2 linked regions of the Homo sapiens genome follow. The protein of the gene in region 2 interacts with the protein of the main gene of each other region in a pairwise test. Each region holds a gene or a part of one and is shown on either strand. Other genes may lie near its edges.

Region 1 (7,036 bases), on a different chromosome or scaffold from region 2:
TAGTTGTAAAATAAAGTATGTGTACAAGATGATTTCCCTTGTAATCCACCCACCTCGGCCTCCCAAAGTGCTGGGATTACAGGTGTGAGGCACCGCACCCGGCCAAGTTCTAAGTTACCTTCTAAAAGTTATAAGTCCAGTTCACTGTCCTTAAGGTGCATGCAATCTATGTGGGGAGACAAATGGGCGAAAAGTTTTTTTTAAAGAAGCGTGCATTTTTAAAGAAGTGTGAGAGTATTACATGAATATACTTAATGTTTATTCATTGAACTAACATTTATTAAGCAGCTGCTACATCCCAGGCACTGTTTTAACCCTAAGAGATATAATAGTGAACAACAACAACAAAAAACCCTTGCTGTCATGGAACTAATATTGAATGGAAAGAGACATCTAATAAATCAACAACTATAATTGTGTGGTGATAAGGGCTAAAAAGAAAAAGCAGGGAAAGGGAGAGATGGAAAGGGAGAGAATGAAGATGGTTACGGAAGGGCTTTAAGATAGATGGCCTATGAGTGAAGTGAGGTAATGGGCCATTCAGATGCTTTCGGAAAGAGGGTTCAGGTAGAGGAGGTGAGGGTGCACAGGCATTGAGAAAGACTGCTTGGTTTGTTTGGAAACAGGAGACCAATGTATTAATAGCTGGAGCAGAGAGAGCAAGGGCAGGTAGTCTTAGGAGATGGTATCAGTGGTTTAGAAATATCTATAGGCCCTATGTAAATACACACTTTAAAAATCTTAGCCGGGCGCAGTGGCTCACGCCTGTAATCCCAGCACTTTGGGAGACTGAGGCGGGTGGATCGCCTGAGATCAGGAGTTCGAGACCAGCCTGGCCAACATAGTGAAACCCGTCTCTACTAAAAATACAAAAAATTAGCCAGGCGTGGTGGCAGGCGCCTGTAATCCCAGCTACTAGGGAGGCTGAGGCAGGAGAATCACTTGAACTCGGGAGGCGGAGGTTGCAGTTAGCTGAGGTTGCGCCATTGCACTCCAGGCTGGGCAACAAGAGCGAAAATCTGTCTCAAAAAAATAAAAAAAATCTTATCGTAGCCAGTGTTTTGGGTATGTGGGTTTGTCTTAAAGTACACGTCTTTTTTTTCTTTTTTTTTGAGATGGAGTCTCACTGTTGCCCAGGCTGGAGTGCAGTGGCTTGATCTCAGCTCACTGCAACCTCTGCCTCCTGGGTTCAAGCAATTCTTATGCCTCAGCCTCCTGAGTAGCTGGGATTACAGGCATGTGCCACCACACCCCGCTAATTTTTGTATTTATAGTAGAGATGAGGTTTCACCATGTTGGCCAGGCTGGTCTCGAACTCCTGACCTCAGGTGATCGCCTGCGTTGGCCTCCCAAAGTGCTGAGATTACAGGCATGAGCCACTGCACCTGGCCTGTTTTCTTAACACGTTTTCTAACTCCTTTTGTGAAGCCTTCCCTGACAGCTTAGTTCACACCATTCCGATCCTACTCTTGCCTCTTGGTATATTGATGCTTAATTGTGTGTCATCTTTTATTGTCCCTTAATTGTTTTATTATTCTTGTTTCACTGCTAAGATTGTAAGCTTCTAAAAGATAGGAACTATATTTCCTTTGTATTTATCCTTCGTAATACCTAACAGTTTTGGGTACTTGGTAAGTGCTCAATGCCTGTTAAATTGAAATTGAAATTTACCTTTTACAGATAGTTAAGGATTAAGAAAAATTGTGAAATTCCAGAGTGAGGGTATCATCACAGAATTTTCCAGGCACTTTGAATGTCAAAGGATTAACCGCTTTTTATAGAATAAGTTCATTTACTGGGGTCATTCCCAAGGCTGCTTACTAAATGGAGCTGTAGTGCTAAGCGTTAGATTCCAAAGTTGAATCTTGTTAAGTTGTACCACTAAGCTTTTGGAGTAAATCATCACTTACCAAAATGGAGTTTAGGAAACGCCAGAGAGTCTGTGATGCTTTTGTTATAATCCTTAGGCTCAGAAGGAACCCTAGGAGAAAGAGAGGAAGGGTCGGTGCTTTCAAAGGCAGTATACAGAAACTTGATGTAGGTGGAAGAGGAGTCAGTGCAGCCCTGGAAAGAGTACAGAAATAGAGAAACGTGAACCAGAGAGTAGGAGGGAAGTGACAAACTCAACTGGAAAGCTGATGTACAGTTTGAGAAATGTAGTTAAAGAGAGTACTTGGAAATACTGTACTCAAAGTTTGTGGGAAGTTAAATGAGTTAAATATAGGGCTATTAGAGGTTCATTTCACTTTAAGTTTAATATGTATGAAATTTACGCTCTATACAATGTAGTGGGGAATGAATTCTTTTGGTCAGCTTTTCTAGTGAACAATTTGATTCATAAAAATTTTATTTTTGTGCAGTTTTCTAAGAGTTTAGCTGCTGTATAAGGTAAGATGTACCTTATTACTTATAGCTTTCAGCAGAATTCTTTGTGTCAGTGAAATGTTGATATGGTATAATTATTATATGGCCAAGTAACCGCTTCTCACCATAGAGTCATAAATCCAGTTTAGCCAAGTGGGTTCAGCAGTTATTCCTATTAGCAGCTGATTCTAGTAGTAAGATGACTTTCTTTCAGGTTTCAGGGAAGGGGTTCCAGATAGCCTGAAGTTGCTTTGTAGATGCTGTGTTTATTGAAGTAGTTTATCTTCCCATTTGCTTATTTATGGGCTTATTTCCTCATAGGTGGATGTCTCTTTGTGCCCTCATTTGGTATTTGGTGCTGAAACTAAGCATGGTGCTACCATTCAAGAAGAGTTATAAAAATATTGTGTTTTTTTTTTCTTGCAAGTAATTTCATGAACAATATTTCACTGAAATTACTGAATTTTTCATCTCTCCCTGTCCCAGTGTCCTTGGGCTGCCACAGCAAAATACCATAGACTGGGTGGCTTAAACAACAGACATTTATTTCTCACAGTTTTGGAGGCTGGGAAGTCCAAGATGAAGGTGCCAGCAGATTTCATGTCTGGTGAGGGCCCACCTTCTGGCTTGTGGATAGCTGTCTTCTTGCTGTGTGTTCACATGGCCTTTCCTTTGTCTGTGCCCTGGGGGAGAGAGAGTCAGTGGTCTCTTCCTCTTCTTATAAGGGCACTCATTTATCATGTAGTTCCCACCCTCATGACCCAATCTGAAGCTAATTCTAGAGGTCCTACCTCCAAATACCATTACACTGGGGTTAGGGCTTCAACATACGAAATTTAGAGGGACACAGACATTAAGCCTGTAACACTACCAGAGTGGTAAATATTGTAGATGGAGAAACTGAGGAACAGTCATGTAAAACTTGTTGCTTTTTTCCCCATGTCTTACAAGGAAGTCTGCAGATGTAAAACTGGAAATGTATTTGAGAAGGAGAAAGTCAGATCTGATTTCAAAGTAGAATTATTCTTCAGGGTGACTCAAGAGATTAGCTTGAGTTGAGTTTGTCTCCCAACTCCCTCCCATTTTCTAGCTACTCTGTCATTTTTTTTTCACTATCACGCTGACATGTGAACACAACAGAAGCTAACTAGAAATTTAACTTTCATTTTGCTGTAAAGCAGACTGGTGCAGACAGGCCTCAAGTTTACAGGACTGCTGAGAAAGAAATTGAGTTATGCTACTTTGTATAAACAAGAATGTTGCTAGTGAATCTCTAGTTTAACATCTCTCAGGCCTTCAGTTTGATGTCAGGCTTTAATAATTTGTAGAAAAAGACAGTCATTTTAGTAAGCAGATTTCTTTGAATTTTTGTTGATATACATTTGTAAAGCATAGTAAACATCTTTATTCTGGGGCAAATGTGCACTTCCTTCAAAGGCAGGAGGGAAGAACCACAGACATGATTGGAAGGAAATGGCAGTAATTGGAGCATGAGCAGACAGATGGAGTGAGGGATGGTGAGTACATTTGGTGTTTTAGGTGGCCCCTAGGAGTATTGAGTTTCTTCTTATTCTCCTCTACAACCCCAATACAAGCAGGCAGCTTACATGGCTAAGGTTTCATTATCTAATCCATCACAGATCAGCTTGAATAAACCCATTGGCTGATGCTGATCTAGTTAGGAAAGTAGCAAAGCTGCTTGAGCCAGGATTGGGACAAATCGGATCAGAACTGCCATGTGAATCCTGGACGCATTTCTGTAATTTGGGTGGGCAAAGTAGTTTGGGAAGTCATTTACTCAAGAGAATGAGCAGTCAGCCATGAGTTTTTTCAAACATTGTCTTAGGGACTCTGAGGGGAAAGTGTGTGGAGGATTTGAGATATTTCTCTGGAGGATAGCCAGATTGCTTTGATTATTTGAGTCTGAACATTTTTTGGTCACTAATGCTCAGAAGTGACCTTTTTTTTTTTAGTAGCATTTGGAGATTCCAGTTGTGATCGTTTGTCACTTTTGTGAGTGATCCCTTAATCTGAGACCGTAGGATATATGTCCCTTCTCTGTTTTTATTTTATTTTTATTTTTTATTTTTATTATACTTCAAGTTCTAGGGTACGTGTGCACAACGTGCGGGTTTGTTATGTATGTATACATGTGCCATGTTGGTGTGGCTGCACCCATTAACTCGTCATTTACATCAGGTGTATTTCCTAATGTTATCCCTCCCCCCTCCCCCCACCCCAGGACAGGCCCCATTGTGTGATGTTCCCCACCCTGTGTCCAAGTGTTCTCATTGTTTAATTCTCACCTATGAGTGAGAACATGCAGTGTTTGGTTTTCTGTCCTTGTGATAGTTTGCTCAGAATGATGGTTTCCAGCTTCATCCATGTTCCTACAAAGGACGTGAACTCATCCTTTTTTAGGGCTGCATGGTATTCCATGGTGTATATGTGCCACATTTTCTTAATCCAATTTATCATTGATGGGCATTTGGGTTGGTTCCAAGTCTTTGCTATTGTGAATAGTGCTGCAGTAAACATACGTGTGCATGTGTCTTTATAGCAGCATGATTTATAATCCTTTGGATATATACCCAGTAATGGGATGGCTGCGTCAAATGGTATTTCTAATTCTAGATCCTTGAGGAATCGCCACACTGTCTTCCACAATGGTTGAACTAGTTTACAGTCCCACCAACAGTGTAAAAGTGTTCCTATTTCTCCACATCCTCTCCAGCACCTGTTGTTTCCTGACTTTTTAATGATCGCCATTCTAACTGTTGTGAGATGGTATCTCATTGTGGTTTTGATTTGCATTTCTCTGATGACCAGTGATGATGAGCATTTTTTCATGTGTCTGTTGGCTGCGTAAATTTCTTTTGAGAAGTGTCTGTTCATATCCTTTGCCCACTTTTTGGTGGGATTGTTTGATTTTTTCTTGTAAATTTGTTTGAGTTCATTGTAGATTCTGGATATTAGCCCTTTGTCAGATAGGTAGATTGTAAAAATTTTCTCCCATTCTGTAGGTTGCCTGTTCACTCTGATGGTGGTTTCTTTTGCTGTGCAGAAGCTCTTTAGTTTAATTAGATCCCATTTGTCAATTTTGGCTTTTGTTGCCATTGCTTTTGGTGTTTTAGTCATGAAGTCCTTGCCCATGCCTATGTCCTGAATGGTATTGCCTAGGTTTTCTTCTAGGGTTTTTATGCTTTTAGGTCTAACATTTAAATCTTTAATCCGTCTTGAATTAATTTTTGTATAAGGTGTAAGGAAGGGATCCAGTTTCAGCTTTCTGCATATGGCTAGCCAGTTTTCCCAGCACCGTTTATTAGATAGGGAATCCTTTCCCCATTTCTTGTTTTTTGTCAGGTTTGTCAAAGATCAGGTGGTTGTAGATGTGTGGTATTATTTCTGAGGGCTCTGTTCTGTTCCATTGGTCTATATCTCTGTCTTGGTACCAGTACCATGCTGTTTTGGTTACTATAGCCTTGTAGTATAATTTGAAGTCAGGTAGCGTGATGCCCCCAGCTTTGTTCTTTTGGCTTAGGATTGTCTTGGCAATGTGGGCTCTTTTTTGGTTCTATATGAACTTCAAAGTAGTTTTTTCCAATTCTGTGAAGAAAGTCATTGGTAGCTTGATGGGGATGGCATTGAATCTATAGTTTACCTTGGGCAGTATGGCCATTTTCATGATATTGATTCTTCCTATCCATGAGTCCCTTCTCTGTTTTTAAAGGGGAGATATTTTTATTACTAACCTTAATATGTAATCATATTTGTTATCCATATATACTTGAAATATGGTGTAGTAAATAAACACCATTTAGAGCTTCTCATTTTGGGATTTGAATCCTGGCTTCTCCATTTACCAAATGAATGAGCTATTCAACATCTCTGAGCTCCTGCTCACACATCTGTGAACTGGGAGAATTAATGTATACTCTTATAAACCACTGTAATGAGAACTGAGATTCTTTAAGGTGCCTATCAAGGAACCCAGCACTACATGTTTATTTCTTGCTTTCCTTATATCCTGCTATACAGCACTCACTAACTTCCTGCTTACTGTTTAATCTGCATGGAGTGGTTAATGTGCTTCTGATTGATTAAGTGCCAGAGTTGGGAACTACTAGAGATGAGCAGTGTGTTAAAGGGGAAACCTCATTTGCTCATTATCCAGGGTGGAGGAGTGGAATGAACTGGGTCATTGTGGTCTCTCTTGTCAGAGGAAGGGGAGACAATTCTTTGCTAAGGAGTGAAAGGACTGCTGCAGTATCACAGTGTCTGCAGGGGGGATGTGGATTTCTTAGAACCCGTGGGATCTCTGTTGGGAGGGTGGGTGACAGATTCACTGGCTGTTTTAGTGGTACATGGAAGGCAGGAACAGTAAAAATGTCGTGTTTCAAATTTTATAAGTTTTGTTACGTATGTTGGTTCAAAAGTGGCACTTTTTGTTCTCATTTTGTCTATGGAAATTGAGCTGGGATGCCTTTGTGTTGTCTCTTGTGGTCCCTTTTCAGTCTCTTCAAACCCGCTCTCCAGACTGCTAACACAGTGATCTATCTAAAAGAGCCAATCTGGCCAGGTGCGGTGGCTCATGCCTGTAATCCCAGCACTTTGGGAGGCTGAGGCGGGCAGATGACTTGAGGTCAGAAGTTCGAGACCAGCCTGGCCAACA
Region 2 (7,000 bases):
CTGGGCCATCTGGAAATCCTTAAACGTTTCTTTGCCCATTTTCTGCCTGGGCTTGTCGGTCTGTGGACTTGACCTGGTGGAGTCACTCGTGCCTGGGACGGTGGCAAGGGGGGTGAGGGGACCTTGGAACATGGCAGCTGGCAAAGGCATAACAGTTTGTGTGGGCATGAAGGCGGCTGGCGGAAACTGCCCGGCCACAGTTGGCCAGGGCTGCTGAGTGGCAGGAAAGAGACCCGGCTGGCCCCATGCGATGGGCTGAGCCCCCGGCATCACCTGAGCGACTGGTGGCTGGGCACCCATGACCATCTGCTGTTGGACGAGGGGCTGCTGACCCCAGAAGGACGGGAGGACAGCGCCCATTGCAACGTAACCTGGGAGAATGAAAAAGGAGAGTCAGGTGTTTCCCTGGTGTCCTGGGAAAGAAGGATGCATGGACTCAGGTAATTGACAGAAATGTATCAAGCACCAACTAAGTGCCAGACTGTGTGCCAGGGACTGGGGATGCCAAGATGAACAAGACAAAGTCCTTGCTGTCATAGAGCCTATATCCTAGAGAAGTGGTCAGGGAAATCCTCTCTGAGGAGATGATCTGTAAGCAAAAACTAGAATGCTAGTAATCACATTTCTGTAGTTGCTAAAAGTTTCTAAAGTCTCATAGCCTCAGAAGCTGTGTGTCTCAGGGACAGGGCAGAAGGATGGAAGGCAGGCCTCCTGGGTTTTCTCCTTGCCTCCTCTTCCTGCTGCACTTAGGACCCTCTCAATTGCATAAGCTCTCTAAGAGTCTGACTCTTTGTGGTAAAACCAGGTTATAATACCTTCCTTCACAGGACTTAGGCAGTGTGCAGAGTGAGTAAGAATCTGAATGTTGGAGTTTTAGAGACCTAGGTTAAAATTCAAATGGCCACTTCTTATCTATGTAATTTGGGGAGCAGTTCTTAAATCTGTCTAGGGCTCCATGACTTTATTTGTAAAATGGGTATAAACACCTTCTATCTCACTGGGTTGATTTGAAGATTAATTGATAGTACATATTTAATATGTGGAGTATTGTACCTGACACAGGATCAACATTCAGTAAATGTTAGTTAGTAGTATGGTTTGGATTAGATAGAGGCTAGAAAGTTACTTATTACGTTGCTTAATATACAAGAGCCATGTAATAAATGGTAGCGAGAGGTATTATGCATGATTTCTGTATTATTATTCTTATTCCAATTTTAGAGAATAAAAAAAAAATAGGGCCAGATGTGGTGGCTTATGCTTGTAATCCTAGCACTTTGGGAGGTCCAGGTGGGAGGATTGCTTGAGGCTTGGAGTTTGAGACCAGCTTTAGCAACATAACAAGACCTCTTCTCTACCAAAAATTTTAAAAAATTAGTCAGGAATGGTGGCACATGCTCAGAGTTCCATAGTCTCGGCACTCAGGAGGCTGAGGCGGGAGGATCACTTGAGCCCAAGAGTTTGAAGCAGCACTGAGCTATGATCACCCTACTGCACTTCAGCCTGGGTAATAGAGTGAGACACTTGTCTCTAAAAAAAAAAAAAGAAAGAAAGTTATTGTCCACTCAGGGGCACCTCATGCATCAGTACAGGTTACACACTGCAAAACCCCACATCCTGTACTCACACGTATTACCATGATAATTGTTCACTGTATTATTCTTTTTAGGTAAGACATATACATTTCAACAGGAGCACAAGCAACACTTGTTATAATAATAATAGTAACATAGTAACAGCAACAAGCTCCACTTATTAAATGCCTACAACACGCCACGTACACTAGTAGGTGTTTTATGTCTTCACGAAATCCCGGCAGGGTAGGTATTATTATCTGTATTTTAGGGATGAAGAAATTGGTGCTCAAGGAAAAGCAACTTGCTCAGGGTCATACAGGTTGTATGAAGTAGGAGCAGGGTCAAACTGAGGTTGTCTGTCCCCCCAAAGCCAGGGTTCCTTCCTTTGTGCCACACACTGCCTCACCCAGATGGCCAAGACCAATTTCTGATCTTTGCAGTTAATAGACCTCCTTGCCTTCTATTTGATTGTATTAGAATACTGCAGGCCTGCAGGAAACTCCCATGTGCTTCCAGGGGTCCCCACCCTTCTCAGGGGACACAATGGCCACCTCTATGTGCAGTTGAGCCTGAGAGACAAGTTCTCAGGCTGGGCAGAGCAGAGAACAGAGAAGCTAGCTTTGCCTGGCCTCTCAAAACTAGCCTTTCCATGGCTGTCAGTAGGAATGTACCGAGGCAGTGTACCAGGAAAAAAAGAGGAATGGATGCAGAGTATCCTAGCAACTTCCAAAGGGACAATGGGTGGGCGTTACGGCATTGATGACATTATGAGTCATCTCACTGACTCTTGTGAGCCCAGAGAGATCCAATGCAGGGTGCCTCACTCCATGCTCAAGTCACAGATGTACCCGCCTTCATCTGACTGATACAGGCTAGAGCCAATATTCAAGGCCTGGTCATTTTCCTCGCAAGGTGCCCATTTCCTCTCATGCCGTGCTTCCCTAACAGGAGGCTCCAGAGAGGCACCAACAGGACACCTGGGCTTCTTGCTGATTAATCTCGCAGTGTTAAACACTTCTGCGGAATAAAACAATGATGTCAACAAACAAAATGGAGAATATCTTGTAAGACCACTTTGTCCAACTGCACTGAAACAAGAGGGGTGAAGAGGCCCTGGAGCTGAAATTTCAAACGTGAAGCTTGCTTAGCTTGCCTCGCCCATGGCATAATAATGTAGTGGCTTAAATCTACCAACAGATGAAGAATCCGGCAACTCTGTCTTGTTTTCTGGTTTACTTTGATATGGCCCAGTGGTTCTCAGTGGGAGTGCTACTGCCCCCTAGGGGTGGCTAGAAAATTTGTGGGGTGTGTTTCGGTTGTCACAAGAGGAGGGGGTGGCACTACTGGCATTTAGGAGGCCCAAGCATTGACAGTAGACATCCTATTATGTCTGAGACCAATGCGTACGACAAAGCATTATTCCACATCCTGTTTATGATCATTTGCACCTAGAATCGACTTTGAATTACATGGAAATTCAGTTATCTTTGCATTTGATTTTAATGCATTTAATTTTCCAGGAATTCAACAACTGTGCACAGGAGAGAAGACTGTATTTTTGGTTTGGAACACTGTCAAAAGGTGTTCACTATTTTGGAAAATGGCAGTGCCTGACATCCCTGACAGAAGCGCTTCTCATGGTGGTGTAGCCACATGACACTTCTGTATTAGCCTGGACTTACAGCTGTGGCTTTCAGTAGTGATTCTACTTACAGGTATATACATCTGACTCTTATGTCTTCTAGTGTGCTCACGCCTGAGTATTTCCTTATTTAAATACATATATTTTTATTACAAGTTCTCTTTCTTTTCTTTCTGCCTTATACTACAGTTAGAGAATTATATTCATTTTGAAAAATTGTGTAGCTAGACTACATTATCTATGAAATTCATTTCAAGGTGTGAAAGGAGGTATTGCAAATATTTGTAATAAGAAGGGGGTGCTGGGTCTGCAGGTGGAGAACTACCCACAGATTCAATCACCCAAGACCTGATGCCCATTTTGGTGAATGAGTGGATGTTTTCACTCTCTTGACATCAGCCTGTTTTTGGCTTTGCTTTTATTCCACCCTCCTTGCTGCCATGAAGGACTGTTTTTAAATGCATATATGGTACTTCATTGTCTTAAGTATAAGGCTCAGATGTCTTAGCTTGGCTATGCGTCCTTGGGGGTCAGCTCCTTCCACCTCTTCATCACTATCTTCAATCCATATCCTCACTGCACCTTGCCCTCCAGCATTTGCAAACAAAACCCAACCTGCTGTCTCTTGTCTCTGCTGGCCCATCTGCCTGGAAAGCCATCCCCCTGCTTCTGTGCTGTCTAACCCTGATTTGCTCTTGGAGACTCAGTTCACTATCACCTCTGTTGGATGGCTTCTTGCTCCTGTCAGCACCACTGGTCCTTCTCTGGGCTTCCACAGTACCCTGTGCTCACCTCTATCATGACACTTGTCACACTGCCTTGCAATTGCCTGGTTGTTCTATCTTCCCTGATGAGACTAGAAACCACCTGCTGGCAGGAACTCTTTATTCTCTCTCTCTTTCCACCCTGCCTAGCATGGTTTGGGACGGGAGAAAGGCCCTACATAAAGGTAAATGAGTCCTAGTCAATACATTCACTGCATTTTTCCCGGTGTCTAATTAAACCCACAATGCATAAGTGCTGTGATCTCTGATGATTCTACTGTTGGTGGCAGGTTTTTTTTCCCCTCCCATCTTTTATTTTTTTTCCACAAGGAGCTAACAGATGGGCTGTGCACACTTTTCTGGAGAGAGCTATTAGCATGTCTCTCTGGCTTCATGCCATCTGCTCCAGACCAAAGTACAATATTCAAAAGAAAAAAGGCAGCACAGGGTAATTGGGTATCATGTTTAGGAGCCTGCAGGTCCCACTCACTTTTCCTAGGGGTTCCCTGCAGGCTGGCTCTCCTCGGCCTGTGAGTTAAGGCTGTCTGGCCACATGGTCTTGTGCATGAGCGAAGGGACACGTCAGCAGCAGGACAGTGGTGGCACTGGACAGAGGGAGCCACTTGGTGGCTGCCACTGCAGCCACTTAACAGCTTGTTAACTGTTTACAATTAATGTCCAATAGTGGAGGGAGGAGGTACTAAGGAGCATCTGTTTATGCCGTGAAGTTCAGAGCAATCATAAATCTCCTTGCTGTGGAGTGAAAGGGAACACCTGCCTTGCTGCCTTACAGTTAGGTTTTTAAAAAGTGTTGAAAATTGTGATTTACAGCCAGATGCTGACACCTGGGGATGCCCCCATTATTTGAAAAAAGAAAAAAAGGCAGACTGAAATATAAGAAAAGCACTAAAAACGAAGGAACTCCTCCAACATTTATACAGAACTTGTATGACATCTCTTATCTACATTATCTCATTTGATGGATTCATTCATTCAAAAATACCTCCACTAGGTGCCAATCACTGCTTTAGTGTGTGGAGACAAAACAAAGAACAAAACAGTCACCAAAAAAAAAAATTCTTACCCTGTGCAGCTTACATTTTTGTGAAGGTGATCCTTTCCACAAGCCTCTGGGGTGAGTGTGATTGCTATCTCTTTAATTTGTATAGGAGAAATTGCAACTCCATGAGGGAAAGATTTGATGCAGCTACACACTGTATGAATAGCAGATCCAAGGCTCCTGAAGAACCATGTAGCAAACATCTGTTGAGTGCTTACTGATGGAAGCACTGCCAGGAACTGTTGTACCTATTTTACAATGTGCATTTACTCATGCAATCCTTAGAAAAACTCTATGAGGTAGAATTATGATCATCCCCATTAAAACGGGGTAAGTTCCCTGAGGCTCAGAAGATATTTATCTGAGTATGGTGCAGCTGGCTAGTGGCAGAGCTTGTGTTCATACATAGTACATTCTCCAGGCCACCCATTCTCCTGCTGTCTGCTATAAGCAGTCAAGAGGCTGAAGACCTAAACTTTATTACAGGCACTAATTTCCAGGTAAAGGAAAAAATATAGGTAGAACAGGACATATATTCATCTACTGTAGAAATCAGAGTAATCATAATAATACAGCATATTCTACACTAAATATTGATGATGTGCCAGCATTTTTCAGTGTGTAGTGATACCACTTCTACAGCTGCAGTTAATGTAGTGATTCATTTAATTCTCTTGATATTGTTGCAAAGTAAGTATTATTTTACACTCAGTTATAAAGATGAAGAAACTCTGACTCTGACAGGTCAAGTAATTTGCCCAGGAGTCTAAAGCTTAGAAATAATGGCTGAATCAGGATCCAAACCTGGCCCATTAGATTCAAAAGCCCCCAGGAGCCAGTCCATCCGTTGTATCACATACTCCAGTTCACTTCCCTGTCTCCTTATCACTGGCTGGACAATTAGTCACAAGGAGATCGGGATTCAATAGCTACAGAAATTTTTATGGCCAGTTAAGGGAGAAATAGGGCACACAGTTTAACACCAACTGAAGCCAGTTCTGTCATATTAACTAGAGTCAGAAAGCAAAAACATGCTAATTGAAATTAATTTTAGACTCGTGTTCTAAAAGTTGAAATCTTGGAGGTAATCTATCAAAATTTTAGCAGCTAAAGAAAGGAAATCTGGATATGTGGAAGTGGCTTGTCCATAGCTTCCAATGTGGCTGGTTAAGCAGCAAGACTAAAACCCAGGTCTTCCAAGTCCCTAATCTGGTACAGGTTTGAAAGAGGGCCCAGAGCAGTGCTGTGACTGACCCAGTGATATGGTTTGGCTGTGTCCCCACCCAAATCTCACCTTGAATTGTAATAATCCCCATGTGGAGATAAATGAATCATGGGGGTGGTTTTCCCCACACCGTTCTCATGGTAGTGAGTAAGTCTCATGAGATCTGATGGTTTTATAAAGGGGAGTTCCCCTGAACACAAGCCCTCTTGTCTGCCACCATGTAAGACATTCCTTTGCTCCTCCTTTTTCTTCCACCATGATTGTGAGGCCTACCCAGCCATGTGGAACAGTGAGTCCATTAAAACTCCTTCCTTTGTAAATTACCCGGTGTCAGGTATGTCTTTATCAGCAGCGTGAGAATGGACTAATACACCCAGGCAGGTCCTCAGCGTGTTTTTAATCAAATGTTAGGGCTGGAAGAGATATAAAATTGCATCTAGTCCCATCTTCTCAATTATAGAGAAGGGAATGGAGACTTGGGGGACCAAGTCATTCCTCTGCCTGGAGTACCTGGAACTCTGATGCCTACTTGAGACTTTCCTGTCCCTGCTAGTCCTGTCACATGTCACCTAGGCAAGAGCCCCTCGTGACTACAGGGGCTCCACTTACACCTGCCCTCTGCCTGCACTCAAAAGCCCCCATGCTCTGGTCTGCATTTTCTTTTGTCCCTATCACTTCTCATTTTTAAATATATTATGCAAATTACTTATTTTTATGTTATTTCCTGTCTTC

What was found. Proteins that work in one complex are often made in the same cells at the same time.
Region 1: the proteins of DAB1 (region 2) and RBFOX2 interact in binary tests that used the Homo sapiens proteins (3 or more experiments, as listed by UniProt).

Annotation. Positions count from the first base shown.
Region 1 is NC_000022.11:36,018,815-36,025,850, reverse strand, and holds part of RBFOX2 (RNA binding protein fox-1 homolog 2), read left to right. Parts: intron 1-7,036. UniProt on the Homo sapiens protein: RNA-binding protein that regulates alternative splicing events by binding to 5'-UGCAUGU-3' elements. Prevents binding of U2AF2 to the 3'-splice site.
Region 2 is NC_000001.11:57,015,061-57,022,060, forward strand, and holds part of DAB1 (disabled homolog 1), read right to left. Parts: intron 3,293-7,000; exon of another isoform or gene 1,474-3,292; intron 372-1,473; coding exon 1-371. UniProt on the Homo sapiens protein: Signaling adapter of the reelin-mediated signaling pathway, which regulates the migration and differentiation of postmitotic neurons during brain development.